Homo sapiens: one gene and its partners. The protein of the gene in region 1 interacts with the protein of each later gene in a pairwise test. Each region holds a gene or a part of one and is shown in the gene's direction. Other genes may lie near its edges.

What was found.
Region 2: the proteins of EDDM3B (region 1) and SUSD3 interact in binary tests that used the Homo sapiens proteins (3 or more experiments, as listed by UniProt).
Region 3: the proteins of EDDM3B (region 1) and JPH1 interact in binary tests that used the Homo sapiens proteins (3 or more experiments, as listed by UniProt).
Region 4: the proteins of EDDM3B (region 1) and TMEM106C interact in binary tests that used the Homo sapiens proteins (3 or more experiments, as listed by UniProt).

The regions. Positions count from the first base shown.
Region 1 is NC_000014.9:20,764,300-20,771,658, forward strand, and holds EDDM3B (epididymal secretory protein E3-beta precursor), read left to right. Parts: upstream 1-4,104; 5' UTR 4,105-4,207; intron 4,208-5,833; 5' UTR 5,834-5,851; coding exon 5,852-6,295; 3' UTR 6,296-6,649; downstream 6,650-7,359. UniProt on the Homo sapiens protein: Possible function in sperm maturation.
Region 2 is NC_000009.12:93,053,876-93,061,951, forward strand, and holds the start of SUSD3 (sushi domain-containing protein 3), read left to right. Parts: upstream 1-4,825; 5' UTR 4,826-4,867; coding exon 4,868-4,955; intron 4,956-8,076. UniProt on the Homo sapiens protein: May play a role in breast tumorigenesis by promoting estrogen-dependent cell proliferation, cell-cell interactions and migration.
Region 3 is NC_000008.11:74,311,438-74,318,702, reverse strand, and holds part of JPH1 (junctophilin-1), read left to right. Parts: intron 1-3,082; coding exon 3,083-3,842; intron 3,843-7,265. UniProt on the Homo sapiens protein: Junctophilins contribute to the formation of junctional membrane complexes (JMCs) which link the plasma membrane with the endoplasmic or sarcoplasmic reticulum in excitable cells.
Region 4 is NC_000012.12:47,958,715-47,966,595, forward strand, and holds the start of TMEM106C (transmembrane protein 106C), read left to right. Parts: upstream 1-4,881; 5' UTR 4,882-4,990; intron 4,991-5,083; exon of another isoform or gene 5,084-5,255; intron 5,256-5,494; 5' UTR 5,495-5,522; coding exon 5,523-5,709; intron 5,710-6,567; coding exon 6,568-6,631; intron 6,632-7,123; coding exon 7,124-7,283; intron 7,284-7,374; coding exon 7,375-7,515; intron 7,516-7,881.

The DNA.
Region 1 (7,359 bases):
ACGCACGGACCTGTACCCAGCACCACTCCTTGCATGCCACCCACTGCAAGTTCCCTTTGTAAGCCCCTCTCCCCAGGCTAAAGTTTGAAATGGTTCCTTTAAGGCACAAGCCATGGCCACTTCTCCAGTGCTAGCTCTGGAATAAAGCTTCTTTCTTTTCACTGCATCTTGTCCTTGTTATTGGTTTTGCAAGCAGCCAAGCCTGCATTTGGTTACATTTTATTGTTTTAAAACTACTTTCAAATGCATTACTTCTAAAAATTCTCAAAATTACTCACTGATGTACTAGAATATATCATCAGATATGATGCCTTGAAAAGCTCTAGAGCTCTTTCTTAGCTTGCTTCTTCGAACATTGGCTCAGGTAGCTTCTCTCTCCCACCTCTCTCTACATTCCTTGAGTCACTACTTGAATTTAAGTCTTCAATAGATAATGCACACTTGTTGGAAAGAGCTCTGGATGTGTGGGCACATGACAAACGACTGATTTTCCCTCAGAATCGCCTCTCAAGTCATCCAAATCCAGATGCCCAGAATTGTTTCCTTTATCTCTTCTCTATCATCAAAAGACCTAGAGAGTAGGAGGATGCATAGAACCTGCTCTGAGGCAATAAGACAGAGCAGGGATCTATCTTAGAGGTGAGCAGGGCACCCTCCCCAACCCAGCATGGAAATAAAGGAAAATCTTCAATTTCTTAGCTAGCCTTGAAAAGAAAAAAGAGGAACTAGATAAGCAAGAAGGTAATGCTAGCTTAAAACAATAACCAGGGAAGTTAGAATCAGGGGATGTTTGGTTCCCTATAGAAACTAAAAATAGCATCTTAACATACATCCCTGAGTTCTTCAGAAACTCAGACCCCCAACAAACAGATCTGCTGGCACATAGACCTCAGATAAGGGGGAAACTGAGGACTAAACTCTCACCACCGTTCATCTAAATTATTTCGAGTGGCCTGGAGAAAGTCACACCCATGATCCAAAGCTAACATTCTGTTCTGCTGACCCCCATTCTTAAACAAACTTTCATCTCCTTAACCAATTGCAAATCAGATGATCTTTGACTCTACCTATGACCTGTGAGCCCCTGCTTCAATACCTTGCCTTATTCAGCCAAACTAATGTGTAATCTCCACATTTTAATTTACTATTTTGCCTGTAACTTTTGCTTTCCTGAAATTTATTCCCGCCTTTATTTAATTATTTATTTATTTTTTTGAGACGGAGTTTCGCTTTGTCGCCCAGGCTGGAGTGCAGTGGCGCAATCTCGGCTCACTGGAAGCTCCACCCCCCAGGTTCACGCCATTCTCCTGCCTCAGCCTCCCCAGTAGCTGGGACTGCAGGCGCCCGCCACCACGCCTGGCTAATTTTTTTGTATTTTTAGTAGAGACGGGGTTTCACTGTATTAGCCGGGATGGTCTCGATCTCCTGACCTCGTGATCCGCCTGCCTCGGCCTCCCAAAGTGCTGGGATTACAGGCGTCAGCCACCGAACCCGGCCTTTTCCCGCCTTTAAAAACCCTTACCTGAAGTCATCAGAGAGGTCAGGTCTTCAGTGTGAGCCACAAGGTTCTCCTTGCTTGCTGCTTTGCAAATAAACTCCCTCCTTTCTCCTGCCGCAGACCTTGGTGTGGATATTTGATCTTACTGTGCTGGACGATCAGACCCCAGTTCAGTTCCATAGGAACAATATCTCTCCCGTGCCCCACAGAGTCTATCAGCACATGATTCCCTATTATTCAATGATTGCTTGACAGGAGCTGAAGTATGAAGAAAAGTTCTGGATATAAACGGAATATTCTGACATTCTAATAGCTAGGTGGTCCAGTGACAAACTCAACCAAGGTGGCTCAGGTAGGAGTGGCCTTGCGGATGTTGATAGAAAATACATTCAAGACCAGGTACAATGGCTCACGTCTGTAATCTCAGCACTTTGTGAGGCCGAAACGGGCGGATCACTTAAGGTCAGGAGTTCGAGACCAGCCTGGCCAACATGATGAAACCTCGCCTCCACCAAAAATACAAAAAACTACCAGGGTGTGGGGGTGCCCACCTGTAGTCCCAGCTGCTTGGGAGGCTGAGGCAGGAGATTCACTTGAGCCTGGGAAATGGAGGTTGCAGTGAGCCAAGATTGCTCCACTGCACTCCAGCCTGGGTGACAGAGGGAGATTCTGTCTCCAAAGTAAATAAATAAATAGAAAAAGAAAATACATTCAAGTATCTTACATTATCCATAAGTGAAACCTTTGGTTACTGTTACTGAAACAATATTCGTTGCATATACCAATTTAGGGGGAGTTGGTATGAAACGTGCTGGAAATTCCAGATGTGATATGGAAAGGTCACCCATGGGATGCTCACACAAACTCAGTTTAAGGGCTGGTGGTCTTGACCAGAGTGAGCTGAGTTTAGGGCTGAGTCTTGAGTTCCTGAAAAACAATTAGGTCAACACCTTGTGATGCATACTTCAGAGTCAGATGTGATATATAGGAACATTGTGGAAACTATGGCTAGGCTACCTGACATTTTACTAAGGCAGTAAGGACTACAGCGTCAGCAAAGGTTATTGTTAATGAGGACTAAACTCTGATTTTTTTTATCTTGCCCAAATTCCTATCTAAGGGGTCTGGGGAGTCATGCCCTACAAATCATCAATTCTCATCAGATGAGTTTTATTTAACCCTGTATATCATGTTTTACTTTCCAACCTGACTCTGGCATAACATTACCAGACAAACAAGAAAAAGTATTTTGCCCCAAAACATGTTTCTTTGCCACATTTTGAAATTGCCCTGCAAAGCTGTTCTTTGTGGGGGAAAATTTGCATCTGTAAAGAATCTCTATTAACATAGCTAAATATTTTTCTTCCAGACCTTCCAATCCTAAAGATATTAATTAAGATCTGAAAGGGAAACATTTGTCATCTATTGTCTCTAAGGGCAGCCACTATAAGACTTCGAAAGAATTGGTCTCTACCATCTTTATTTTAACCTGAATATTCCCTTTCTATCAATCTCAGGTCTTTAGACAAAACTAGTTGTCAACCAGAAAATGTTTAAATACACCTATGGCCTGGAGGCCCTCCACTCCCCATCAGCTTTGAGTTGTCCCGCCTTGCTGGACCAAACCAATGTATTTCTTAAATGTATTTGATTGATGTTTCATGCCTCTCTAAAATGTATAAAACCAGCTGTGCTCCAACCACCTTGGGCACATGTCCTCAGGACCTCCTGAGAGCTGTGTCATAGGCCATGGTCACTCATATTTGGCTCAGAATAAATCTCTTCAAATATTTTACAGAGTTTGACTCTTTTTTTTTTCTTTTCTTTTGTTTTGAAATGGTGTTTTGCTCCTGTTGCCCAGGCTGGAGTGCAATGGCGTGATCTCGGCTCACTGCAACCTCTGCCTCCCAGGTTCAAGCGATTCACCTGCCTCGGCCTCCCAAGTAGCTGGGATTACAGGTGCCCACCACCACGCCCAGCTAATTTTTGTATTTTTAGTAGAGATGGGGTTTCACCACCTCGGCCAGGTAGGTCTTGAACTCCTGACCTCAGGTGATCCTCCCGCCTTGGCCTCCCAAAGTGCTGGGATTACAGGCGTGAGCCACCACACCCAGCTGACTCGTTTCATCGACAATAACAAACTGCCTAGTAAAACTTCAGATACTGGCTACCTAATCATAACTATCTGGCCACCAGTTTCACTAGATACTCTTTCACCTCTCAACGAAAGTCCCACAGTTCACAATGTTATAAGTGGCTTTCTTCAGAGAAGTTTCTGTGTAACATAGCATAACCCTCCAGGGACTTCCCAGAACTTTGTCAGAAATTGAGTGCAGAAGCCAGGTCTCTCGTTGTCTACTGATAGCACCAGATAACCCCTTTCTGGGGTCACCTCACTCTAGGGTCTTGCACTTCTTCTGTGCCCTGGAGTCAGCCTTTGATGTTTGTAGCCTTTGCTTGAGGCCACTGTCTGAATAAACTCAAGTGTTCCAGATGAGAAGATACAGGAACAAGTTCACATAATAAGGCTATTCCCCATCACCACCTCCACTACCAATCAGCTGGAGCCTTGCAGCTCCCCCTGCTATTCCTTTCTCCACTGCTGCAGATTTCCAGGGCCCTGAGGAAAGGAGGACTCAGACTCTGCTCTTCAGATCCACACACTGATCCCAACTACAACCAGTGACCTGAACTTGGAGTCTGAGTAGGGTAAGAAGGGCTCTGCTGAGGATGTTTGGGGGACAGCCAGGAGCACTGAAAGGAGGCTGATTGAACTTTTAGATAGCAAACAATGGAGAAGGATCCAAATCATGGAAAACAAAGGTGTGAATTCTGGTCAGCCTCAGTCCCACTGATACAGGCTTTCCCTGCCCCTCCCTTCCTTCACCCCCAGTCTTCTCAAACACAATGCATTAAAACCGCTTACATCCTGCTCTTCTATCCTCTGTAGGTCTTTATCATCAGGACAGGGTTCCACAGATAGGAAGTACCGACCCTTTGTTCTGTGTCTGATGTGGACATTTGACATCATTAGAAGTGCTCTCAAATACATGCGTCTCATTAGACACTTGCAGGTCTGTAGGGAGCTATTATTAAGTCCATCTGAGGACACCAATGCTCAGAGTTGTGAATCAGGTTAGAGATTCAGTAAGGGCGGGAACACTTCTCATGGTAAATGAGGACAGAGCACTAGTTTAAACGGTAGACTCTTTCAAAAAGATCCCCACACTCCATGCTATCACCACAGAAGCCACTGTGGGGGCTCTTTTAGTCTTGGTGCTTGATTGATTACAGGAATATTTCAAATCTGGAATTCTGGTTGGGTGTAGTGGCTCATGCCTGAGAATCCCAGCACTTTGGGAAACCGAGGTGGGTAGATTACTTGAGGCCAGGATTTTGATACTAGCCTGGCCAACATGGCGAAACATTGTCTCTACTAAAAAAAATACAAAAATTAGCTGTGTGTGGTGGCAGGCACCTATAATCTCAGCTACGTGGGAGGCTGAGACAGAGAATCTATTGAACCCTGGAGGTGAAGGTTGCAGTGAGCCAAGACTGTGCCACTGCACTCCAGCCTGGGTGACACAGTGAGACTCTGTCTCAAAAATAAATAAACAAATAAAAACCTCAAAACTGGAGTTATTTTATGATGACATTTTCAAGGAGCAGCTCTGACAAACCAAGATCATTTGTAATAGTGATAATTAGGGGAATGACCCCTGAGAAGGAATATGGGTAGTTAGTAATGAACATACGTTCCACTCAGGCTTTGGAGAAAGTGTTATAAGGAAGTCAAGATTGGAGAAGCATCATTAAGTAATTGGAGAAGCAGGCAAGAAGTAATTGCAGGCTAGGCTGTCATTTTAGCGAATCGAAGCCTTCCTACCTAGGAACCACTTCCCAAGTAGTTACTCATTTTCTACATTTCCCTAAAATCTGACAACCCTTTCCACTTCAAGGACATAAACCTTAAAATATCATTCTCTTTTGGACACATGATCTCCTGAGAGTTGGTCTGGTAAAAAGGAGCCAGCTGGAGGGTGATTGGCTCCTCAGGTTGGGTGTAAGAGAGGGATGAGAGGAGATGGTTGGAATTCTCAAAATGAACTTCATCTATTTTTTCTAATTATGTGTTTCGCTTACACAGGCTGAAGCGTGTTTTTAGTTCTTAGAAACTCTATTCTCTAATGAGAATTAGCATCTTCTCATCGGGGAACCAAATAGTAAAATTGCACCCAAGTGCCTGCCTGGTGGGGAAGGAATTTTAAGGTGGAGTTCAGCTCTCTGGGCATTGTCTGGATAATGCTTTTCTTTCTCTTCTCTGTGGACACGCAGGCGGCCCCGGTGACTGAGATGGCATCGTCTCTAAAGATCTGGGGCACACTCTTGGCCCTACTTTGCATCCTATGCACACTGCTTGTACAGAGCAAAGAAGTTTCTTGGAGAGAATTCATGAAACAGCACTACTTAAGTCCAAGTCGAGAATTCAGAGAGTACAAATGTGATGTCCTCATGAGAGAAAATGAAGCTCTGAAAGACAAGAGCTCTCACATGTTTATCTATATCTCATGGTACAAAATCGAGCATATATGCACTAGTGACAACTGGATGGATCGCTTCCGAAATGCATATGTATGGGTCCAGAATCCTCTCAAAGTACTCAAGTGTCACCAGGAGAATTCCAAAAATAGCTACACAGAGAGCAGGAGCTTCAACTACATTGAATTCCATTGTAGCATGGACGGGTATGTTGATAGCATAGAAGACCTAAAGATGGTAGAACCTATCGGCAACTAGAAAGTCTATGCACATCCTCAGGTATTGGTAGAGTATTCAGTGCTTTCTAAGTAGCAGCCCCTGCCTCCATCAATAGTCCTACCACTCCCCTCTTGCATTTATTTGTCAATGTTTTCCAAATACTTAGAGTTATGAATAGCATAATTTCTTGATACCATAACTTTGCCTGTGTTGTTTCTCTGCCTGGAATACACTTTTGTCTTCATTTACCTAATTTACTCTTATACTTTTGTCGACATTCAGCTCATATGGCATCTGTTCTTGATTAACCCAAGACTTTCCTGATATTGACTCTCTTGATACATACCCAAGCTGAACAATCTTCCCTTCCCTAAATAAATTATATGACTGCAATGTGTGTGACATTCATATATGTTATGTGCACAGAGTGAGTATAGTGTGATTGATATGGGTGTGTGTGATCTAGACTATGCATGTGATTGATGCTGTGCAAGGGATTGAAGGTGTATTTTATGGGTGCATATCTAATGTATGTAATATGTTTGTGTATATGATGAGGGTATGAATGATTGTGTGCTTAGTTCAAGACAAGTTGTGATGTAGGCATTGATTGCAGCATCAATTTGAAATAATCAAAAGTGTCAGAATCCAGTTTTAAAGAGTTGATTCAAGCAAAAGGCTAGGAGTGGCCATTCGGTAACACACAGACTCCACAGAAATGGAGTCAGTGTTCCAAAGCTGAAAATTAAGTTCTTGCTTATGTAGGAAAAAGACAAAAGAATTTAACAGGATTACAACAATTTCTATAACAGCTGGTTTAAGAGTTACAACAAATTAATTAGTTACAGTTTGTCCCCCAAGTCTTCTTTTCTTTTCTTTATAGTTTTTCATTTCCTTTCCAATTTAAAAGAGTGTATTTAACATTCCATCTTAATGTGATAGCGATGAAGTCTTTCTAAGAGGAGAGGGAAGTTACTCTATCATGAAGATCAACAGTGGAGAGGGAAGGAGTCTTCCCCTGTACCCTTCAGTAATTTACAACATTTCACCGAACAATGCAGGTAAGAAAGAAGGTTTAATCTATAAACATAGAAACCACGGTT
Region 2 (8,076 bases), on another chromosome or scaffold:
TAGGCCCAGCTGTATCCCAGCTTCTAAACTGGCCTGGCATGCAGTAGGTGTTTGGTAGTAGCTGTTCCATGAATCTGTCATTCCTTCTGCCCTCTGGGCGCCTTGCTTTGTGTCTCTGCATCACCATTTCTGAACCTGAGGGCGGCAGCTCGATGTCATGTCACCCAGGCTGACTGATCTGCTTGTGCAGGCTGCAGCCAGGTAGGACAGTCTGGTGGTCACAGCTCAGGCCCCAGCAGGGGAGTACCCCCGGGGAGGGGCCTTTGTCGCTCTGCACAGTGGGGACAGGGCTCTTGCCTTGCTTTAGGAGGATAAGTGGTGGGTGTTGAGGGCTCCAGATGGCCCAGCAGAAAACATTTTTGGGAAAATTGTTTTCTCTGCAAACATCTGGCCTGCTAGAGCTTCAAGGTCAGGTTACTTTTTTTTTTTCTTTTTTTGCTTTTAGTTTTTAAAAGGTAATACAGTTTTTAAAAAGAGAGGACACCCATGAGGCCACCAATGCTTCCCTGACTCTTACCTTTTGCAAAAGAACTTTCTGGACGTGGTCTATTGTGAGAGGTTTTCAGAACAAAAATCTCATTTTTCTATTGAGTAAAAACTAAAATCAAGAATAAAGCAAAACAGGCTGGGCGCAGTGGCTCACACTTGTAATCCCAGCACTTTGAGAGGCCAGGGAGGGTGCATCACCTGAGGTCAGGAGCTCAAGACCACTCTGACCAACATGGTGAAACCCTGTTTCTACTAAAAATACAAAAATTAACTGGGCGTGGTGGTGCATGCCTGTAATCCCAGCTACTTGGAAGTCTGAGGCAGGAGAATTGCATGTACCCAGGAGGTGGAGGTTGCAGTGAGCTGAACTCATGCCACTGCAATCCAGCCTGGGTGACAGAGCAAGACTTTGTCAAAAAAAAAAAAAAAAGGCAAAACAAACTGTTTTAGATTTCCACAATTATTATCTAATTTTAGAAAAACTCACCAAGCCAAGAACTCTGCCACCACCAGACTTCTGCATGGGTCCCCTCCCAGGCCACCATGGCCCATGGGTGCTGAGTCAGGCAAATCAAGGGTTGAGGAAGGCTTCCTGGGGGTGGCAACACCTCAGCTAAGGTCTGAGGAAAGAGGAAACTCCCAAGCCAGACCCTCACCTTCCTCTGGAAACCTCTGGCAGCGCACAAGACCCCCATGTTACAGAGTGGAACACTGAGCCCCAGGGCTGGCAGGCCTCCCCTGCCTCCCAGGTTCCATCCAACAAGTGTCCACTGACAGTGCACTGTGTGCTCCCAGTTGCAAATGGAGCTGGGAAGAGGCTGTGGCTTTGGTCAGTTCCTCAGGCTGTGCCTGACTCTGCTTCCTTCTCCCGGCCTGCCTCACCAGCAGCCAGCAGCCCATCCGTTCCTCCTAGCCTCCTCCCCTGCCTCCTCCAGCAGGGAAGCCCATATGTTTTGCGTTTTTTTTTTTTTTTTTTTTTTTTTTGAGACACAGTTTCCCTTTGTCACCCAGGCTGGAGTGCAGTGGTGCAATCTCAGATCACTGCAACCTCCGCCTCCTAGGTTCAAGCAATTCTCGTGCCTCGGCCTCCCAAGTAGCTGGGATTACAGGTGTGTCTGACCTCAAGTGATCCTCTCGGCCATATCCGGCCACATGTCCATAGCTCCACACCTGGCCACATGTCCTCTTCATTTCAGAGACGTGACACAGGCTGAGCAGGCCTTAAGGACAGGCAGCACGAAATGGCTCTGACAGGGAGTGCCATCAGGGAGGGCTCCATGGAGAAGGAGGGTGAGGAAGGCAAGGAGACACACCCAAGCAGGCAGAGCCTAAGCACTGCTCCCAGTTTGTGCCTAGACTTGGAGAGTCTGGGAAACCAGGCAACTAGGACAGCTGAGCGGGTGGGCCAAGCTCAAAAGCTGACGGGCCTTCACAGTCCAGCTTAGAGGCCACCACTCCATCCTGAGCACATCACAGTCTCTCACTTGCCTTGAGAGGGTGGCAGGACAATGTCCACCCCTCAGATGAGAACACGAAGACTCAGTGCAAGGGTGCCCACCCCTGCCCCAGGGATCAGGGAAGCCTGTCAGAGAGCCATGGTTCTCACCATGGAAGGGGGCACCCCAGGCGGTTGTCCCTAGTGGGCCAGTGCCGTTCTTTTCACATGCCTCAGTTTCGCCCACGTGCATGGCTAGAATAGCTGGGCTTTCTAGGAGCAAACCATTCCAAGGGCCTGGGAAAAGGTGGACAAGATGGCCCTGATCAGTGTTCAAATAGGTGACAGGCCCACCTCCAGAACCAGCCTCAGATCCCTCCCATAGCTCCTGAAGATGGCCTTTTGGCAGCAAATGGGTGTTCTGAGCCACAGCAAGGCATACAGTTCCCTGTGGAAACGACATGACAGAGGTCCTTAGGCCACCTCCAGGTCCCCTAACAGTACAAATGGAGGCCCAGCGCCACAAGCCTGAATGTCCACAACCCAACCAAGCGACAGACTGCTCAGAAAAACATGCTCTTTCCTCCTTGATCCCACCTGTCAGGGGCTGAACTGTGTCCCCCAAAATCTATATGTTTAAGTCCTAACCCTCAGTACCTCCAAATATGACCTTATTTGGAGACAAGGTCTTTACAGACTCTTCTTTTTTTTTTTTTTTTTCTTGAGATGGTGTCTTGCTCTGTTGCCCAGGCTGGAGTGCAGTGGCACAATCTCAGCTCACCACAACCTCCGCCTCCCGGGTTCAAGTGATTCTCCTGCCTCAGCTTCCCAAGTAACTGGGACTACAGGCACGCGCCACCATGCCCAGCTAATTTTTGTATTTTTAGTAGAGACAGGGTTTCACCATGTTGGCCAGGCTGGTCGCAAACTCCTGACCTTATGATCCACCTGCCTCTGCCTCCCAATGTGCTGGGATTACAGGCGTGAGCCACTGAGCCTGGCCGGTCTTTACAGACTCTTTATAGGGTCTTAAGTTAAGATGAGGACATTACGGTGGGCTCTAATCTAATATGACTGGTGTCCTTAGAAGAGAGATTTGAACACAGAGAGACACAGGGAGAGCACCATGTGTAGACAGGAGTTAAGTTGCCACCGGCCAAGGAACTGCCAGAAGCTGGATGATACAAGGAAGGCTGTTCTCCTGGAGTTTTTGGAGGGACTGCAGGCCTGCCGACACCCTGATCTCAGACTTCTGGCCTCCTGAACCATAAGACAATAAATTTCTGTTGTTCTCAGGCACCCAGTCTGGGGTACTATGTTACACAGCTCTAGGAAACACACTTCCTAAATGGCCAGGTGTTTAGCATTTGAAGGCTCCTGAAGGCCTGGGTCACAGCGTGGTGGCTTAGGGAGCTGCAGGCAGCCTGGTGTTTTCCATCCCCACCTAGCTCCACCCAGCTATTGGAGGGCTGCCCCAGACCTCCCTCCCAGCCCTGTCCATGCACCTACAGGCAGTGGCCTTCTGCCTGGTGGTGCATGGTGGGCAAAACCAGGGAAGGGACCACACAGGCCTGAGAGGTGGGCTAGGGGCCACTTGGCAAGACATTCTGGGGTCCCAGAGTGTGGTCTGGAGTGGGCACTGCTGATGGCCCTGCCCTTCCCGACATGGCAGAAAGAATACACATGCTTGATTTTGAATAAAGGAGATTGAAGTAAGCCATCGTGTGTGACCCACAAGTCCAAGTGGGAAGAACATATCAGGGGTGACGCCAACCCTGATGGCGAAAGGGGGAGGGCCCCTCACGTTTCACACTGAACCTCAGCTTTGGAGGGCTCGGAAAGCAGAGACGGGGAGGGGCTGCCCTGCTGGAACCCTGCTTCATGGTCCACCTGAACATCCACACTCTTCACGGTCACCTGCCAGGCACTCTAGAGCCAGCCTGGCCCACCTGGGCCACCTTCTGCGCTCCTGGAGGCATGCCTAAGCCAGCCGCACTGGGCTTCTGCTGCCACACATTGCCAAACCAGGGCCTTTGCACCTGCTGTTCCCTCTGCCAGGATTGCCTTTGCCAGCTCCACAGGAATAGGCATGGCTCAGGTGGTCTCCCACAAGCAGCCCAAGATCCAGGATGTCTGAGGCCTGACACCACACCCAACCCTTTGGTGGCTGCCTGGGCAGGGGGCTAAGCCTGGGTTGGGTGGGGTCAGAGGGAGAGAAAGAGCCCGGATCACAGCTCTGGGCCTGCTGCAAGTGGAGCTGGGTGGGAAGGGGAAGCCAGGAGAAGGGAGGCCTCCAGGTGTGGTGGGCCCTGCAGACAGACCCCAGGGCTTTCCATCCTGTTTCCCCCAGCCGGGGGCCCCTCAGTGAGAACCGAAGACAACAAGGGCACCCAGACCTCAGTGTGCCTCAGACGGCCTGGCCCAGTGAGAGACAGGGAAAGAAGGCTGGGTCCACACAGGACTCTGGGGGTGAGTGGGTTACGGGAGGGGCGGGCCGGGGAGGCGTTTTGCTGTTTGCCCTTTGGTACCGGCCGAATCCGGCACCCTGAGAAGGCAAAATCCTGCTCAAAAAATAAAAACACAGAAGCACATGGAAAAACCACACTAGGAGTGAAGGTGAGAACAGGAAGGGATGGGGGAAGGGTGTTGGGCAGAGGTAGCCACGCGTGCAACGCCCCGGAGTAGCAACACTTTCCGCTCAGCCGGCTGCCTTGGCCCGCTGGGTATTTGGTCTCCCCAAGGGCCCCCGCCCACAGCCCCCGGCCGGACCTCGGCCCCAGTCCAACGTGTGGGCGTGGTCTGTAAGTTGCATGGAACCGCCCCTGGGCGGGCGTGGAGGGCGGGGCCTCCCCGCCCCTCACCCAGGCCCAGGCCCAGGCCCCGCCCCCACAAGCCGGGCTCACTCCCCTGGCAGACCCCGCCAAGCGCCTCGGAGCGCGCAGGATGCGCTGGGCGGCCGCCACCCTCCGTGGCAAGGCGAGGCCCCGGGGGCGGGCCGGGGTCACCACGCCTGCCCCAGGGAACCGCACAGGTGAGGGCTGGGGCCGAGTGGCCGCGTGCGGGGCTCTGCGCCCATTTCACAGACGGGAAAGCCGAGGGGAGGGGGTCGCGGGGCCGCACAGCCGTGGGTGGGGGCCACAGCAACGATCTGCCCCGAGGACGAACCTCCTCGACCCTCCGCCGGCCCAGCAGGCGCCCTAGCGGAGCCGAAGCCTGGCAGCGAGCAGTTCGAAACCAGGCGGCTGCACGCAGCAGCCCGCGCGCCCGTTCCCGAGTGGCCGCAGCGCCTTGGTCCCGGGCGTCTGCGGACAGCGCGGCCGGCCAAGCCTCTCCACGCCGCAGGCTCCGGGCCCCTCCGCGCCCCTCCCGGGGAAGTCGAAACCGGCCTCACCTGGCGGGCGGGTGGCGCGGGGGCGGGAGGGGGGAGCCGGGAGCCCTCTCTGCGCCTGAGGGAGGTGTCATCTTCACGATTCCTTGGTGACCAGCGCAGCTCCACTTTACAGATGGAGAAACTGAGCCTGCGAGAGGGGAGTGGCTGTCCGAGGTCACCCTGTAGCCAGGCTTGGGATCGCCTCGGCTGTCTCGGAGGAGGCTCAGAGGCCTTTGGAAGGAAGAGAAGCTGCTTTTTATTTTACTTTTAAGTGTTTGAATTCAAGAATGTGCTTAAAGAGTTGTCTGCTCCCGTGCCCAAGGCTCCGGGGTTCGAATGCTGGCCTTGCTCCTTGAATGATTCTAAAGTCTAACCCTTTTAGAAACGGAACCAAACCGGAACTCTGGGTCTCAGATATCCCAAAAGCTTACTTCCGCGGCCACTGCCCACGAACGTTAGGCCTGAGGGTTCTGGGCGTCTCAGGCGTTGCGGGGCTAAGGCTCTGCGCAGGAGGAAGCTGAGGCCCGGAGTGGGGTGGGCTGGACCAGGTCACACTGTCAGCCTGCAGCCCCAGGGAACTGGCAGGAAGGTGGCAGGAGAATGGCTTCCTCTCACAGTTGGGGAAACTGCGGCTCAGGGAGCTAATTCACCGAGCAGAGGTCCGCAGCTCAGCAAAGTGGGCGCTGAGACTTGTTCCTGGCGCTGGTGGATTTGGTTTATTTAGTTTGACTCTGGCAGCCTAATGTCCAGAGTCCCTAATTTGGTGTTGGGGTGATGAGCACTTTTGCTCCTGTGTTTGAGCAAGGCCTGCCCAGGGCCTGGTACTACCTGAGGAGCCCCTTCTACTGGCACAACAGCCTGGGGGCGTGGGTGCCAGTGCCCTTTGGATAGCCTTGACTTGCCCAAGGTCAGCCCAAGGCCAGGGAGTATCTGGAGGCTCTGGCATATTTGCATACAAAAGGCTGTTTGCCTTGGAATTTGTGCTGGGAATGGAGCTTAGTCTGGCACCCTGTGCTCTTGTTCATCCTGCCTGGCCCTGGCTCTGCCTCTGACCACCATGACCACTTCCCAGGCACTGGCCCCCTTGTTGGAGTTTTGGGTTAGGATCCCCCCTGTGACCTGGGGTGAGTCGCTGTACCTCTGTGCCTCAGTTTCCCCATGTGCCCCAGTTTCCCCACTGTATACCTGCCCCCAAGCTTGTGGACAGGCCCAGTGGAGCCCAGGGAGGGTACTTGTTCTGGTGCAGGGATGATGCCATCATCTGGACTCCATCACTCCCCTGCCATGTGACCTCAGTTTCTTGCTCTGTGAAATGTGCTGTGAAGTTAGAGGCTGGGGGGTTGGGAGCCTTTGGAGAGGATTTGACACTAAAACACCACTGACCAGGAGTGGTGGCTCATGCCTCTAATCCCACACTTTGGGAGGCTGAGGTGGGCGGATTGCTTGAGTCCAGGAGCTCGAAACCAACCTGGGTAACATAGCAAGACCCCGTATCTACAAAAAATGCAAAAAAAAAATTAGCTGAGCATGGTGGCATGCGCCTGTAGTCCCAGCTATTCGGGAGGCTGAAAGGTGGAAGGATTGCTTTCGTCCAGAGTTCGAGGCTACAGTGAGCTGTGATCACCTCACTGCACTCCACCCTGGGCAACAGAGCGAGATTCTGTCTCAAAACAAAACAAAAACCAAAAACATAGCACGGGGATGTGTGTTTTTCCCACCATCTTTAAAATGGGGCCATTACCACTGGTTTTCCTAGAGTAGATATGAAGAGCACAGTAGTGTGGACAGACTGATCTTCCTGAGAGGCAGGAAGTGGTCTTCCCTCATCTCCCATGAGCGCCCTGGGAGAAGGGCAGGGCGCGGGGGAGACTAGCTCAGAGTAGGAGTTTATCATGTTTGTTGTATGACTGGCCCCTGGCCCTGCTCCCAGGTCAGCCCCAGCACTCCCTGATCTGGGAGATTGTCCAGGAAAGCAGGGTTCCAGTGGCTGTAGGTAACCCCCCTGGCATCCGTGGAAGGGCCTTGGAGGAAGGGCCTGGAGAGGGGGTAGCAGGAGGCATGCTCTGCTGGTGCCTTCTTGGCTTCACCCCTGAACTCCTGCCCCAGAACTGGACTGTGTCCATTTTACAGAGGAGAAACTGAGACCCCGTGAATGCATGTGTAAATCAAAGCAAGGCAGACACACCCTGTGATGCCTGGCTATGGCCTCCTGCCACCCATTGGCATCGAAAGAGCTGCTGGTAGAAGGCATAGGTTCCCGGACCCTCGGTTTTCCACCAGGGATGTGGGAGTACATGTTCCTCATTTGGAATTAGCCCAGCTCTTTTATGGAGGATTGTGTGCTTTCCACATCCTGAGGCCACCCTGCTGCTCAGCCTGGAGATGGAAGGCAGAAGTGGCTCTGAAGCCTGTGCTCACCCTCCATGTGGAGATGGGCTCAGAGAGGGCAAGTGACTTACCTGAAGACACACAGCCAGGGCTGTGGGACACCCACATGTAGTGTTGGGGCCAGGCCTGTCCCCACTGCCAGGGTCTTGGGGGTCCTGTTCTCAAAGCACCTCTGTGTGCAAAAGTCACCCCCTTTAAACTCTGAGAAATTCCTCCTGAAGGTTCCTGTTTCACATTTGGGGGAACTGAGACCCAGATTGAGGTCACACAGGGACTCACTGGCAGGTGGGGATCGAGTCTAGGTGAGACTGGGTTCAGCAGCCTGCCTCTGTCACTCTCTCCCACAGCCTCAGCCAGCATAAAAGGGAACATAGTTACTTAATCCCACAGCAGG
Region 3 (7,265 bases), on another chromosome or scaffold:
ATCAGATTCAGGGAAAATCTGATTCCGAGTTTTTTTGTGGTGACATTAAACTGGAGGAGGAAGGAAGCAGTAATTCCATGTGAGACGTATCACTTATTTTATTAGTGATTTGTGTATTACATGTTGCTGAAATAGAAACCCCCTGAATATTAACAATAAGTTAGTATCATACTCATGAAATCCAAGTCTAGGTGCCCAGAATTTTTTGTGCTAATTCTGATCTGTACTTTGTTTTTTCACTTGTCATAAAACTATTGAAAATATCTGGGAAAACACAACGTTTTGTTAACTAGATGCATACTTGCACATACCCATTCGGAGCATATAAACTGAAGTTTGGCATAGTGCAGTGCAAATTTGACTGAAACTCCTAAACTGGATGCCTTCCACTACAAGATTGTGTAGTTAAAATGACTAAATCTAAAAAATTAGCTCCCAAATGAACACAGTTTAAAACTGGTAAAAGTAATTTTTATACTTGTGAAATATGCATCTACATTTTAGGAATCAAGAGGAACTAATTAGAACTTTATTTGAGCAGCAGGGAGAAGTTGGAACCCACCTGCTTCATAAAGAAATAGGCCCTTTCTTATTCTAGGTTCATTGACTAAACTAAACCTATTTTAAATTTCAGATGAACTGCTAACAGTTTGACTGCAAATTGGTTTCTAGCAATTCTGTGGAGGAATTCTTTCATATACTGTGATTTAACAAAATAGGAGAGGAATGTGGCCAATGCTCTTGTCCCCCCCTTCCCTATTTGACAGTTAAGCAGAGACTTAAACTTTCTAATTATTGCTGTTGCCTTAAACAGCTTGGATTTTCAAGCCATACTTTTTTGGAAATTCTAAATACTGTACTAGTCTTATTTTTGGAGATAACAGTTTAAAGAAACTAGCTGTTAATTTTCCATCAGTGTTAAACATTTACCAAGATGGTATGGCTGTGTTTTAAAAGTGCAGATACTTATTGATATCAAACAGCATCTCTGCAAATTGTTCTAGCAAAATTAACTTGTCACTATAGACAAAAGTTAGGAGGATGTGATTATAGCATTCTTTTAACCAACAAAATATTAAAAATAAGGTGGTTTATTTTAGTATCTTCAAGCCAGATTGTGAAACTTTCATCCTAGAATTTAAATTTTACCTGTATAGGCAAAGGAAAAGTCAAAGTCAAAATTTCCTAATAATTCCATTCCCATTCCTGTTAAGATGGCGGTATTTGGAGATGGCCAGTATTCAATAGGAAGCTTCTTAGCCTGAAATGTTTTACATGACTATCTTATCCTCTTGAGTTAATCTTTCAGAGAAAACTGTGGGCCACCCACCTCCTCAGAAGTTCATAGATGTCAAGTTAAGACTTCACATCTACCCAGAATATGACATTTACAGTACCAGACCCACTTAGTATTTCATTGTATATCTACTATTGCCTGTGTCACATATGCCAGAATGAACAAAAAGAGAAGGTAGTCTTGAAATTGGTCAAAACCGTTGACTTGGGAGTCATTATGGTTTTAACTTTTAAGTGCAATGAAATAACCAGCCATTGTTAACACAGTTATATAAAACCACTAGCATTTTTGCCCGGTGTTTTGAAAATGAATATGTGCCATGCAATGGAAATCTGTGCATGGAAATATAAAATGCAAAGTGACTGCAGGGTAGATCTATATAATCAGAAATGGAAAGAGGTCAAGACAGACTAATCATTATTTGTTTTCTATGACATTGTGAATTGTTATGAATAACACAGAAGTAATTACATTTTAAATTTTCCAGATAGCTTCTTTTGAGGGATACTGTAAATTAAAATTTACCCTTAATTAAAGGAAATTGATTTTGAAAAGAAACTTCTAAATTCCCTAATTTAACATTCATTTCCTCCTAAGATTATTTTAAAACCTGTACCAGGTTATTTTTTAATGTCTTTGCTTATTTATTTAGTAGCAAAAAATTCACTACAAATGCTCTAGATGACAGACTATCATGAAAAAGCATAATATTTGTTGACAGAGTCATCTGGTATCAACATTTTAATAGATAGTGTCAAATATACCTTTCCTCTGAGATGAAGTCCAAAATGGTAACAGTAGAAGATTTCATCTGGCCTTACATCAGTTTCTCCAAGAGTAAAGGGTATACTTTTTAGCCACCATAGCTTTTTACCGTCAACATAGTCATCAAACACCCTCCATCCACAAACACAGACCAGAGGACACATGAGAATTTTGTGTTCTCATACGAAGTAATTCCTGCCCTCAGGGTGCTTCTAGTCTGTGGTGTGATTCACAATGCAGTGGCAGCTAGGGAAATCCATAGAGGATGCAGAGATTTGGCAAATGATACGGCACAAAGCTTTGGCCTTTTCACTTAGAAGCACAAAAATGTTAAATTACTCATTTTTTTCATAATTCACTGTATTCATAATATATATTGTGGTTGTCGATTCTCTCTTAGCTCAAAAAGGTTCACCCAAATTCAAATGATAATCCTGAATATTCAACAGTTTTGTCTACACTAAAAAAAGAGATGCTGAATGTAGCAGAAAATTTAAGACGTTCATTTGATGACTGTGTCCCAAGTATTCCGATTTAAGCCTGTATACTTCTTGGAATGTTATACTGACATAGACCTAAAAGTCATTTTTTACAGTTTTCCAGCTAAATTAGTAATATTAGAATAAAATTTACACATAGAATTCATTTCATCTTCTACTGTTTCCTTGTCTTCTTCCCAAGAGGAATTTTTGATGCATTAATTTCAGAGGAGAATGTTGTTTCCCAGTGTTCACTTTTTGTATTAGAAAGTAGTGGTTTTCCTCTGAAATACTTGCATAAAATTTTAATGAAAAGCAAAAATTATCTGACTACTAGAAAATTCTGTGCAATGACATTAAAGCCTTACACCCAAAATTACAGGGCGGGGATTCACAAGTGGATGCAAAGTATCCCCCAGGGTTGACTTGGAAATGGGTCAGATTTGACCTTGGGCAGGCCTGCGCCAGTGTGCGCTGGATGGTGCAGGTGACGGTGCAGCTCTGCCCCCGACTCACGGTGCTTTCTTGCGGTCTCTCCAAGGTACCTACCAGGGCCAGTGGGCCGGAGGCATGCGGCATGGCTACGGCGTGCGCCAGAGCGTGCCCTACGGCATGGCCACGGTGATCCGCTCACCGCTGCGTACCTCGCTGGCCTCGCTGCGCAGCGAGCAGAGCAATGGCAGCGTGCTCCACGACGCCGCAGCCGCCGCCGACAGCCCGGCCGGCACCCGCGGCGGTTTCGTGCTCAACTTCCACGCAGACGCTGAGCTAGCGGGCAAGAAGAAGGGCGGCCTCTTCCGGAGGGGCTCCCTTCTTGGAAGCATGAAACTTCGCAAGTCCGAATCCAAGTCTTCCATCTCGAGCAAGCGCAGCTCTGTCCGCAGCGACGCGGCCATGAGCAGAATTAGTTCCAGCGATGCCAACTCCACGATCAGCTTTGGCGATGTAGATTGTGATTTTTGCCCGGTGGAAGACCACGTGGACGCCACCACCACGGAAACCTACATGGGCGAGTGGAAGAACGACAAGCGCAACGGCTTCGGCGTTAGCGAGCGCTCCAATGGCATGAAGTATGAAGGGGAGTGGGCAAATAACAAGAGGCATGGATATGGCTGTACCGTGTTTCCTGACGGCTCCAAAGAAGAGGGAAAATACAAAAATAATATTCTGGTCCGTGGGATAAGGAAGCAGCTTATACCAATAAGACATACAAAAACTAGGGAGAAGGTGGACAGAGCAATTGAAGGCGCCCAAAGGGCAGCTGCCATGGCCAGAACCAAAGTGGAAATAGCAAATTCAAGGTAAGTAAATGCAGGGTGGTTGGTTTTGCTGGGTTGGTCAGAACAATGGAGTATCAAATATTATGTTTGTCTATCTGCCAGTGACATCGCTAAATGCTTTCTACAACTACTAAAAAATCAAAGGTGAAAAATGATTACACTCAGTAGAATCAAAGTCAGAAATGTACCTGCACTGTTCTGAAACTTCCCATCATCAAAAAATGTCGAAGGCACTTTGAGCTCCCCTTCCTGTTCTAAATTACTTCCCTCATATTTAACAGCGTGAGGGAGTTCACTGAGACCCTGTGCTCATCTTCCTGAGCCCGGAAAGTTGCTGTTTTCTTTTCTTTTTTTTGTAAGAAGGACCTCTGAAATGCTGCCATAGCAAGCATTGTGTTTTGTGTACCAAAAGAAAATAGCAATCCACGTAGAAACATACTTAGTATAGATGTGTACCTTTATTCTGATATTTACATCGGAGGTATGTACACTTAGCCTAGCTTATACAATTCAGATTCTGTTTATGAAGTCTTATAGGTAAAATTGGTTTTGAGACAGCCACCAAAATCTACATATGGCAAAAGTGGAAAATAACATGACAAAATCTGGCATGCATTGTTAAAAACAACAGCTACATGGGAAAGGCAAAGAGACCTACAAGAATCGCCACATTCTATGCAGAAGAGATTAGGTCACTGGTGTATTAAAAGGAAAGGGGTGGAGGGAACCTGACAACCTGACATGGACAGATGGGACTCTCAATGTGCCAAGGTTGGAAGAAAGAAGAGCAGTAGAGAAGGGCTGGAGTGAGTAGGAGAAAACCGGTGAATAATAGATTGACAAGTGGGGTGTATGTGTGGGCACAGAAGGACTACGTGCTTGAAGTTTTACCATTAATAGCTGGTTTCAGGGATCCAGCAAGAGGGATGGAAAAATCTATTGGGAATAAAGTTCTATTAGGGAAGGATATCATAGGTGAGACAAAAAGAAAAAGGTGTGGTAATAAATGGAAAATTTTATTTTTAGTCTTATTTAAGTGAGTACTGACTAGCCACAGCTTTGTAAGACTTGAAGCATAAATGTAGCATAGAATATTAAAAATCCTGTTTCTGCTTCAATAACACTCTTCCACAGAAGTAAACGCCCTTTTGAAACCACAAAATGTTAGCATGTCTTCAGGTTTTTGTTATTGGCATTGAATTAATGAACCTCCCTTTTTTTTGATGGAGCCATATGAAATTTCCAATGTTCAAATTTTTTAATGTACAAAAAAAAATGGTGACATCATATGGTTCAACTTAGTACTTCTAGAGTTCTTTTTTTTTTAATTCCTCTACTTAAAAAATAAGTAGGGCTACCACTAAATAAGGTTGCATATTTTGCATTACTTTTAGATATATATTATATTATATATTAAAAGTCTTCAAGGTTTTCATCTTTATCCCAAACTAATTTCATTTCAAAGCTATTATTTTTTGTTGATCAGCACAAACTTTAATGAAGGGTCTCTCTCTCTCCTGTCTTCTCTACCAGGCATCTTTTACTTCAGATCACAGTTTTGGATCTACTTTGCTTTTCAGTTTGCTTATAGATCAGATACTCAGCACATCTAATCTTGCTGGCTTACTTTTAGACCTAGTGATAAACATTTGTTAGGCCTTGACCTCTAATTTTAAATGCACACTTGGATTCTTCCATGTTTTCTTGTTACAACTTAGTGACATGCTAAAGTCAGCTCAGTCTTGGGAGGTGAAAAATGAACCTGTGCAGAACACTTTAACAAACGACTTATCATTAGTTTCCATTGGAGGAGTTTGTATAACAGAAAGCGACTGGCAATGCAGAGATGATCTCTGATTATGCTAGTATCATAAAACCCTCACCCAAGTCCTAGCCATGTTCTCTCTGTTGCAAGTCTTTTGGGGGTAGTATTATTTCATTTGGGAATACTGTATTATATAGTTATAATCAAGAGATCTTTAGTTTAAGACCTTATACTTTTAGCCAGTTAGTTACTTCATAGTTACTTAGCTATGTTTAAAATGCTTAATTCATTATGCAAATGAAAGAAGTCAGTCACAGAAAAACAAATACTGCATGATCTCACTTAATCAAATACTGCAATGACCTGACTTGATCTAAAATGGTCAAACTCATAGAAACATAGAGTAAAATGGTGGTCGCCAGGGACTGTAGGGTGGGGAAAATGGAGGGTTGCTGTTCAACAGATACGAAGTTTCAGTTACTCAAGATGAATACATTCTATAGATCTGCACTACAACACTGTGCCTATAGTTAACAATACTGCATTTTGCATTTAAGAATTTGTCAAGGTCAGGTGCTATGGTACATGCCTGTAATACTAGCACTTTGGTATGCTGAGGCAGAAGGATCTCTTGAGCCCAGGAGTTCAAGACCAATCTCTGCAACATAGTGAGACCCCCGTCTCTGCAAAAAATAAGAAAATTAGCCGGACACGGTGGCGCACACCTGTCCTAGTTACTTGGGAGACTGAGGTGAGAGGATGGCTTGAGCCCCAGAGGTCGAGACTGTAGTGAGCTGTGATTGTGCCACTGCACTCCAGCTTGAGTGTCACAGCAAGACCCTGTCTCAAAAAAAACAAAAAAAGAATTTGTTAAGAAGGTAGGTCTCATGTTAAGTGTTCTTACAACAATAAATAAAATACTGTTCGGATGACACAATCAACAAATTAAAAATAAATATATTCAATTAACCTTCTATATTTTACTTACCTTCACTGTTTTAGTCCTTTTCCCAGATTCCTTGCTATTATATAATGAATACTTCCGATTACAGCTTTGTAACTTGTTTTTGGAGGAAGCAGTTAAAGGAATGACATTCCCCTTATAATAGCTCTGATTTTAGAGTTCTACAGTCTTTTAAAACCCTTAAAAATTATTCACAATAGCAAAGACTTGGAACCAACCCAAATGCCCAACAATGATAGACTGGATTAAGAAAATGTGGCACATATACACCATGGAATACTATGCAGCCATAAAAAATGATGAGTTCATGTCCTTTGTAGGGACATGGATGAAATTGGAACTCATCATTCTCAGTAAACTTTCCCAAGGACAAAAAACCAAACACCACATGTTCTCACTAATAGATGGGAATTGAACAATGAGAACACATGGACACAGGAAAGGGAACATCACACTCTGGGGACTGTTGTGGGGTGGGGGGAGGGGAGGGATAGCATTGGGAGATATACCTAATGCTGGATGATGGGTTGATGGGTGCAGCACACCAGCATGGCACATGTATATGTATGTAACTAACCTGCACATTGTGTACATATACCCTAAAACTTAAAGTATAATAATAATAAAATAAAAAATTTTAAAAAGCCTTAAAAATAAGAAAAGATTCTTTTAAGATTTGCTGCCTGGGAGATAGGACTTTTAGCTACATTATTGT
Region 4 (7,881 bases), on another chromosome or scaffold:
AGAGGCATGTGAACCAGAACAACTCCATCTTGAATAGGAGCTGGGTACAATGAGGCTGAAACCTACTGGGCTGAATTCCCAGACCATTAAGGCATTCTAAGTCACAGGATGAGATAGGAGGTCGGCAAAAGATACAAGTCATGAAGACCTTGCTGATATAACAGCCTGCAGGAAAGAAGCCAGCTAAATCCTACCAAAACCAAAATGGCCATGAGAGTGACCTCTGGTCGTCCTCACTGCTACATTCCCACCAGTGCCATGACAGTTTACAAATGCCATGGCAACGTCAGGAAGTTACCCTATATGGCCTACAAAGGGGAGGCATGAATAATCCATAATCCACCCCTTGTTCAGCATATCATCAAGAAATAACCATAAAAACAGGCAACCAGCAGCCCTGTGGCTGCCCTGTCTATGAAGTAGCCATTCTTTTATTCTTTTACTTTCTTTTTTTTTTTTTTTTTTTTTGAGACGGAGTCTTGCTCCGTCACCCAGGCTGGAGTGCACGGGCACGATCTCGGCTTACTGCAAGCTCTGCCTCCCAGGTTCACGCCATTCTTCTGCCTCAGCCTCCTGAGTAGCTGGGACTACAGGTACCCGCCACCATGCCCGGCTAATTTTTTGTATTTTTAGTAGAGACAGGGTTTCACCATGTTAGCCAGGATGGTCTCGATCTCCTGACCTCATGATCCACCTGCCTCAGCCTCCCAAAGTGTACTTTCTTAATAAACTTGCTTTCACTTTGCACTGCACACTCGCCCTGAATTCTTTCTTGAGCGAGATCCAAGAACCCTCTCTTGGGATCTGGATCGGGACCCCTTTCCTGTAACAACTTTGGACTTGGACTTTTGAGTAAATGCTGGGATGAGTTAAGACTTTGGGGGATTGCTGAGAAGGGATAATTGTATTTTGCAATGTGAGAAAGACATGAGACTTGGGAGGGCCGGGGTGGAATGACACAGTTTGGATTTGTACCCCCACCCAAATCTCATGTTGAATTGGAGGAGGGGCCTCATGGGAGGTGATTGGATCATGGGGGCTGTTCTCGTGATAGTGAGTGAGTTCTCACAAGATCTGATGGTTTAAAAGTGTGTGGCACTTTTCCCTTCACTCTCTGCTGCTCTGCCATGGTAAGATGTGTTTGCTTTCCATTTACCTTCTGCCATGATTGTAAGTTTCCTGAGGCCTCCCACCCATGCTTCCTGTACAGCCTGTGGAACTGTGATTCAATTAAACCTCTTTTCTTCATAATTACCCAGTCTCAGGTAGTTCTTTATAGCAGTCTGAGAATGGATACAACCCTTCTTTACAGGGGAGAGAGAAGATGGGGAATGTAAGCAATTCTTTTGAGGGGCAGTAAATGATTAGGGAGAATGAATAGACAAGGCAGACACATTAACTTGTAAATGATTCTCTTTGCAATTTGAATGAGCAGGAAAGGCAGGCATTATCTTGTGAAAAATTCCATCCAAGCATGATTGCATTCTTCAGTCTTCTTCTCTGCCATAGATCATGATATTTCAGGGATGGGATACAAACTCTTGGTAAGAAGTTTTCTTGGCCAGGCACAGTGGCTCATGCCTGTAATCCTAGCACATTGGGAAGCTGAGGCAGGAGGACTGCTTGAGCCCAGGAGTTTGAGACTAGCCTGGGCAACAGGGGGAGACCCCATCGCCAGTAAAAATTTAAAAATTAGCCCGGCGTGGTGGTGCACACCTATGGTCCCAACTACTTGGGAGGTTGACGTGGGAGGTATCATCCAAAAAAGTATCAGAGATAAGTCTCAATTAATTTAGGAGTTTATTTTGACAAGGTTAAGGACATTCCTGTGACACAGCCTCAGGAGGTCCTAACGACATGTGCCCAAGGTAGTCAGGTACAGCTTGCTTTTAAACATTTTAGGGAAACATGAGACATCAATAATTATGTGTAAGATGTGCATTGGTTGGGTCCAGTAAGGCGGGACAACTCGAAGGGTGCCGAGGTGGGGGTCTTTCAGGTCAGAAATAGATAAGAGAAAAAAGGTTGCATTCTTTTGAGTCCTACATCCGCCTTCCATTGAATACACAATTTAGTCTGGCTCAGTACACCTGCATTTTTACATACACCGTAGGGCAGAGGAGGCAATCGAATACACATTTGTCTCAGGTGAGCCTCAGAAAGATGACTTTGAGTCATGTCTGTCCTTTGTCCACAAGGAAATTCCTTGTGGGCAAATTGTGAGGGGGATATGTAATTTTGATCTTTGTAGCTACCTTATTTAGAAATAAAATGGGAGGCAGAATTGCCTGACATAGTCTCCAGCTTGACTTTTCCCTTGACTTCATGATTTGGGGGTCCTGAAATTTATTTTTCTTTCACAACGGTAGTGAGGCATGTCTGACTCCCCCTTCCCATCATGGCCTGAACTAGTTTTTCAGGTTAACTTTGGAATGCCCTTGGCTGAGAGGAGGGGTCCATGCAGATGGCTGGGGGTAGAGAAGACTTAGCTTTATTTTTGTTTCACAGAGGACTGCTTGAGCCCCAGAATTTGAGGCTTCAGTGAGCTGTGATGGCACCACTGTACTTGATCCTGGACGACAGAGCAAAACCCTGTCTCAAAAAAAAAAAAAAAAAGCTTTCTTGGTGAGACAAGGAAATTCCAGAGAGAGTCTTCCCCTATGCTTGGGGTTGAGCGGAGGAACAAGACAAGGTTAGAGGTACCTTGATTCTGAGGCTTGTTTTCTTTTAATTCTCAAAAGCACTCCGTATGCTCAAACACCATATTTTGGGGAATCGTTTTCTGTGACCCAACAGATGAAAAAAAAAAAAACATTTCAAGAAGGAGAAGAGGTGGATCAGAGATGTGAGAGGGGAAGTAGAGGGTCCTTGTTGCCTCTTACTAAAGACTCAGTGGGCTGATTGTGGCCAGTGGTCAGGCAGATGGCTAGACAACAGCAGGTACATTGGCATTCCCCACAGGAGAAAGAGGAAAATACAGAGGTGGCAGAAACCTGAGGGGTCACCAGCCTCAGCCTCACTCTCTATTGCCAAGTGGGCCCCTTATTCATCCCATTTCAGAATATCTCCTCTCCCCTAGCATCATCTTTAATAATTTCACCTGGTTAATGTCTGTACTCAACTCCTGCTGCTGCAGGCTAAGCTCAACCTGGCAGTATGAACAAAGAAACCCACCCATTAAAAAGTACCCTCTAGGCCGGGCACAGTGGCTCACGCCTGTAATCCCAGCACTTTGAGAGGCCAAGGTGGGCAGATCACCTGAGGTCAGGGGTTTGAGGCCAGCCTGGTCAACATGGTGAGACCCGGTCTCCACTAAAAATACAAAAATTAGCCAGGTGTGGAGGTGTGCGCCTGTAATCCCAGCTACTTGTGAGGCTGAGGCAGGAGAATCGCTTGAACCCGGGAGGCGGAGGTTGCAGTGAGCTGAGACTGTGCCACTGTACTCCAGCCTGGTCGACAGAGCAAGACTCCATCTCAAAACAAACGAACAAACAAACAAACGAACGAAAAGTGCTTTCTAACCTCTTACGTACGTGCCTTTTTTGTGGAGGTCTGGGGAAGGGGGGGCCCTACTACCGAATGAATCTACTCCTTGGTGCCTCTTGGCACCTAATTGGCTTGCAAAGCTCAGCTGTGGGGTCCGTTCCTGCGAGAAGCCAGCAGGACTCCCCATGGAAGGTTTCCCCCAGGCTGGGCCCCTCTGACTTGTGAGACTTCCAGCAGCACTTTTATCTACAGTATTGGAGGGGTCTGATGAAGCCTCTGGGTTCCCCTCCTGGACTGAAGACAGGTTCTGATATAATTGCCGGACGGGTTCTCCTTGCCCGTTGCCCAGAGCTGATTCATCAAGACAGGGGAATTGCAATGGAGATTTTAATTCATGCAGAGCCGGCTGAATGAGATACCAGAGTTTTATCACTCAAATAAGTCTCCCCGATAATTCAGAGACTGGGGTTTTTTAAGGATAATTCGGCTGGTAGGTATCAGGCAGTGGGGAGTGCTGATTGGTCAGGTTGGAGATGAAATCATAGGGGGGTCTAAGTGGGTTCTTCTTGCTGTTTTCTGTTCCTGGGTGGGATTGCAGAACTGGCTGAGCCAGATAACTGGTCTAGGTACTGCCAGCTGGTGCCTCAGAATGCAGGGTCTGAAAAATATCCCCAGCACCGATCTTAGATTTTACAATAGTGATGTTATCCCTTGGAGCAATAGGGAAGGTTTGGAATCTTGTGACCTCTGTCTGGATGACTCCTAAACCATAATTTCTAATCTTGTGGCTAATTTGTTAGTCTTACAAAGGCAGTCTGGTCCCCAGGCAAGAAGGGGGTTTGTTTTGGGGAAGGGCTGTTATCTTTGCTTCGAAGTTCAACTATAAACTAAATTCCTCCCAAAGTTAGTTTGGCCTATACCCAGGAATGAACAAGGGCAGTTCGGAGGTTAGAAGCAAGACGGAACTGGGTAAGTCAGATCTCTTTCACTGTCATAATTTTCTCACTTACAATTTTTGCAAAGGCAGTTTATCCGAATGCTCCGCATGTGTGTACCCTCAGCGACTACACAGCTCCTGTACTATAAAGAATATTTCAGAATGGCTTCGGTAGCCGGCAGCACCTTCCTCCTCTCGCAGCAGAGAAGTGTTTTGCTCTGGAAACTTGACTGGAGCCTTTCCCAGCCTATCTAGCGAACAGCAGAGCATCATCCCGACTCCGCGGACTACCGCGGCCCAACAGCAAGGGTCGCGGCTCCCCGGCGCTCTCTGCCGCCCTCTACCGGAACCGAGGGAGCCAGACAGCTGCGATATTGGGAAGGCCTCCGGAGCCGCGAAGAGCGCACGCGCGAGCGCGCGCCCGCGTTCTCCTGGCGGGCTTGGTATTTGGCGCCTGCGCGCTGAGTGCGTGCCGCTCCGCCGACCGAAGAGGCTGGTAAGTCCTCAAGCTGGCAGGTGGTCGGGGGAGCGGCCGGAGAGGAGCTGCCGGGAGTTCGTGCCCTGCAGGTCTGCGACGCTGGCGTTCGCTCCTGCCTGGGCCACTTTGGTGGGCTCAGAGCATCGCTTTTTGCCAAGGGGCGTGACCTGAGCCCGCCTCCTGGGGCTGGGGGGTGGAGAGGAATGGGAATCGTTAAGGCCGGTTATCAATTTGGTGCCTGTTTGTTGCTCGAGGAGGGGCATAGAGCTTACAAATAGTGAAGAGGAAGGGGCGAGGCTGGACCAGGTGGGAGCGGGGGTGCCCCAAGTCCCAGGGCGGTGAGGATCGAGGCAGGTGCGTGAAAGGCAGGCCCCGTTCCCCCTCCCCACCCCCGCCGGCTGTGTGTGGCGGGTAAGAGGAGAGTGGGTAGCACTACTACAAAATGAGGGTCCCGATAGAAATCGTACAGGTGTTGGGACCACACTCAGGGCGGCAACTTGTCATTTTTGCGTTTTTAATTTTCTTATAGAAACAAGCGATTTCTGTCGTGATTCACTGGGGCCGCTAACGTGCACTCCCTCTTTTCATCTTAGGACATGACACCAGTGGCATATCACGGCCATGGGGTCTCAGCATTCCGCTGCTGCTCGCCCCTCCTCCTGCAGGCGAAAGCAAGAAGATGACAGGGACGGTTTGCTGGCTGAACGAGAGCAGGAAGAAGCCATTGCTCAGTTCCCATATGTGGAATTCACCGGGAGAGATAGCATCACCTGTCTCACGTGCCAGGGGACAGGCTACATTCCAACAGGTGATCATGGAGGGATGATTCCCTGATGAGAATCCCAAGGTACCCTCGGAGTTCTCCTGTCTGCCCAGACAACTTTTCTTCTAGGCAGTAATACCATAATAGAGACAGTGCCCTGGACAGGAGCCAGCTCAACTGACTTAATACACTTGGGCAGTTCTGCAACTTCTCTTCCTCTCCTTATTTTTCCAACCCTTTCTTTTCTTTACCGCCACTCTTGTTCTTTTCCTGAGGTTTGGAACATTCAGTTCGCTCTGTGTTGTGGGATTTGTTGACAGGCACATTTCTTTATCGCTGTCACAAGGATTGGGACAGCTTTGCGGGGGAACCATCTTGGAAGCTGCTTTTCAAGGAAATGGGTAGCTAATCCTTAACAGCCTAAGGTCAGAAAAATATATCAGGTCAAGAGAGAGAGACAAATACTTAGCCTTGGTACAGGATCATCTATTACTATTAACAAATTGGCCCTCAGAAAGTCTTTAACAGTTTAGCTGGAGAGTCACAGAAATTTAGAGCTGGTTAGGACCTTCAAAATCATTTACTCCAAAGCTTCCATATGAAAGGCAAGGAAACCATGGCCTTGAGAGATTCGACGACTCTGCCAAGCCCATGCAGTAAAGCCAGAACAGGATCCCAGGTTTTTCAACTTCCACATCACTACCCTGGCAGCACTGATAGATGTTTTATAATTTGTGGCACTCTCTTGTTTCTTGTTCATTAGACCCAACATGTGAATTTCACTAGTATTTTTTAAAATGTCTCATTCCAGAAGAATATTTGTTGTGGCAGGCTCAAGTGAGACGTGAAGGAAGTACTGCCAACACATGGGATTTACAAAATAATTGTTTGGCTCTTTTCTAGAGCAAGTAAATGAGTTGGTGGCTTTGATCCCACACAGTGATCAGAGATTGCGCCCTCAGCGAACGTGAGTTACCTGCTTCTCACCTGTTAATACCTACTTCTGTCCCTAATCTCTTTCTGTATGTATGAATGCCAGTTAATTCTTTGAAAACTACACATGTTCTTATAAGTTCCCCATTTTCCTTATAACTGTTTGCCCAAGCAAGATATCTCTGCCCCCATCACAATCTGGGGAAAGAAACTTGAAGCTGGAAATGCTTTGAAGGTCAAGGAATGGAATCAGAAGAAACTGGGAAAGTGGAGTGTTCTGGGAGGTGTGGGACTGTCTCTGTCCACATAGCTCCTTTCTTCAGCTTTTCTTCCCAGAGTGCAAACAGTGTTTAAAGGAGTTTTAAAAGGTTTCTCCTGCTTCACTGCTTCTTAACTGGTTTATGGTTCCTGGCTCTTGGAACTTCCCTTTCAGCTCCCTTCTCTTTCCTGGTTTTGTGTTTAATCTTGACACATTGAACCTTGATATCTGACTGCCTGGGTCGGTCATGTGCTGTGTCATTTGCAGTAAGCAATATGTCCTCCTGTCCATCCTGCTTTGTCTCCTGGCATCTGGTTTGGTGGTTTTCTTCCTGTTTCCGCATTCAGTCCTTGTGGATGATGACGGCATCAAAGTGGTGAAAGTCACATTTAATAAGCAAGACTCCCTTGTAATTCTCACCATCATGGTAAGCCTTAGGGTTTCATTCCCTGGGTTGTGCACCTGCCAGGCTGGGACCCAGGACACTTACACTTGTTTCCTGACTTGCCCTGATGTAGGCCACCCTGAAAATCAGGAACTCCAACTTCTACACGGTGGCAGTGACCAGCCTGTCCAGCCAGATTCAGTACATGAACACAGTGGTCAGTACATATGTGACTACTAACGTCTCCCTTATTCCACCTCGGAGTGAGCAACTGGTATGCTGTTCTTTTAGGAATCTTGCCCCACAGGCCTAAGAGAAGAGTAGGGGGCTGTAGGAATGCCATAGCTGTGTCACTTTCCTTTTTGTCTCCTCATTTCTACTTGTAGGAACTGGTGATGAGGAAGACCTGTTGGGCCCTGTAATTATAAATAATTGTGAGAAAAAACAGCTATCATTTAAGCATTTGGGGAGCAGAATAATTTGTAAGAGACAAAGATTTGCTACAAAATAAGAAGCAGCAGTGTTACAGCCTGAGGTCCATTGGCCTCTCAAAAGGGAAGAGGTTGGCAGTATCAATTAGAGGCTCATAGACTATATTAGGGACAATCTCAGGGAAGTATTTTGCATGTGATGGAAGAAT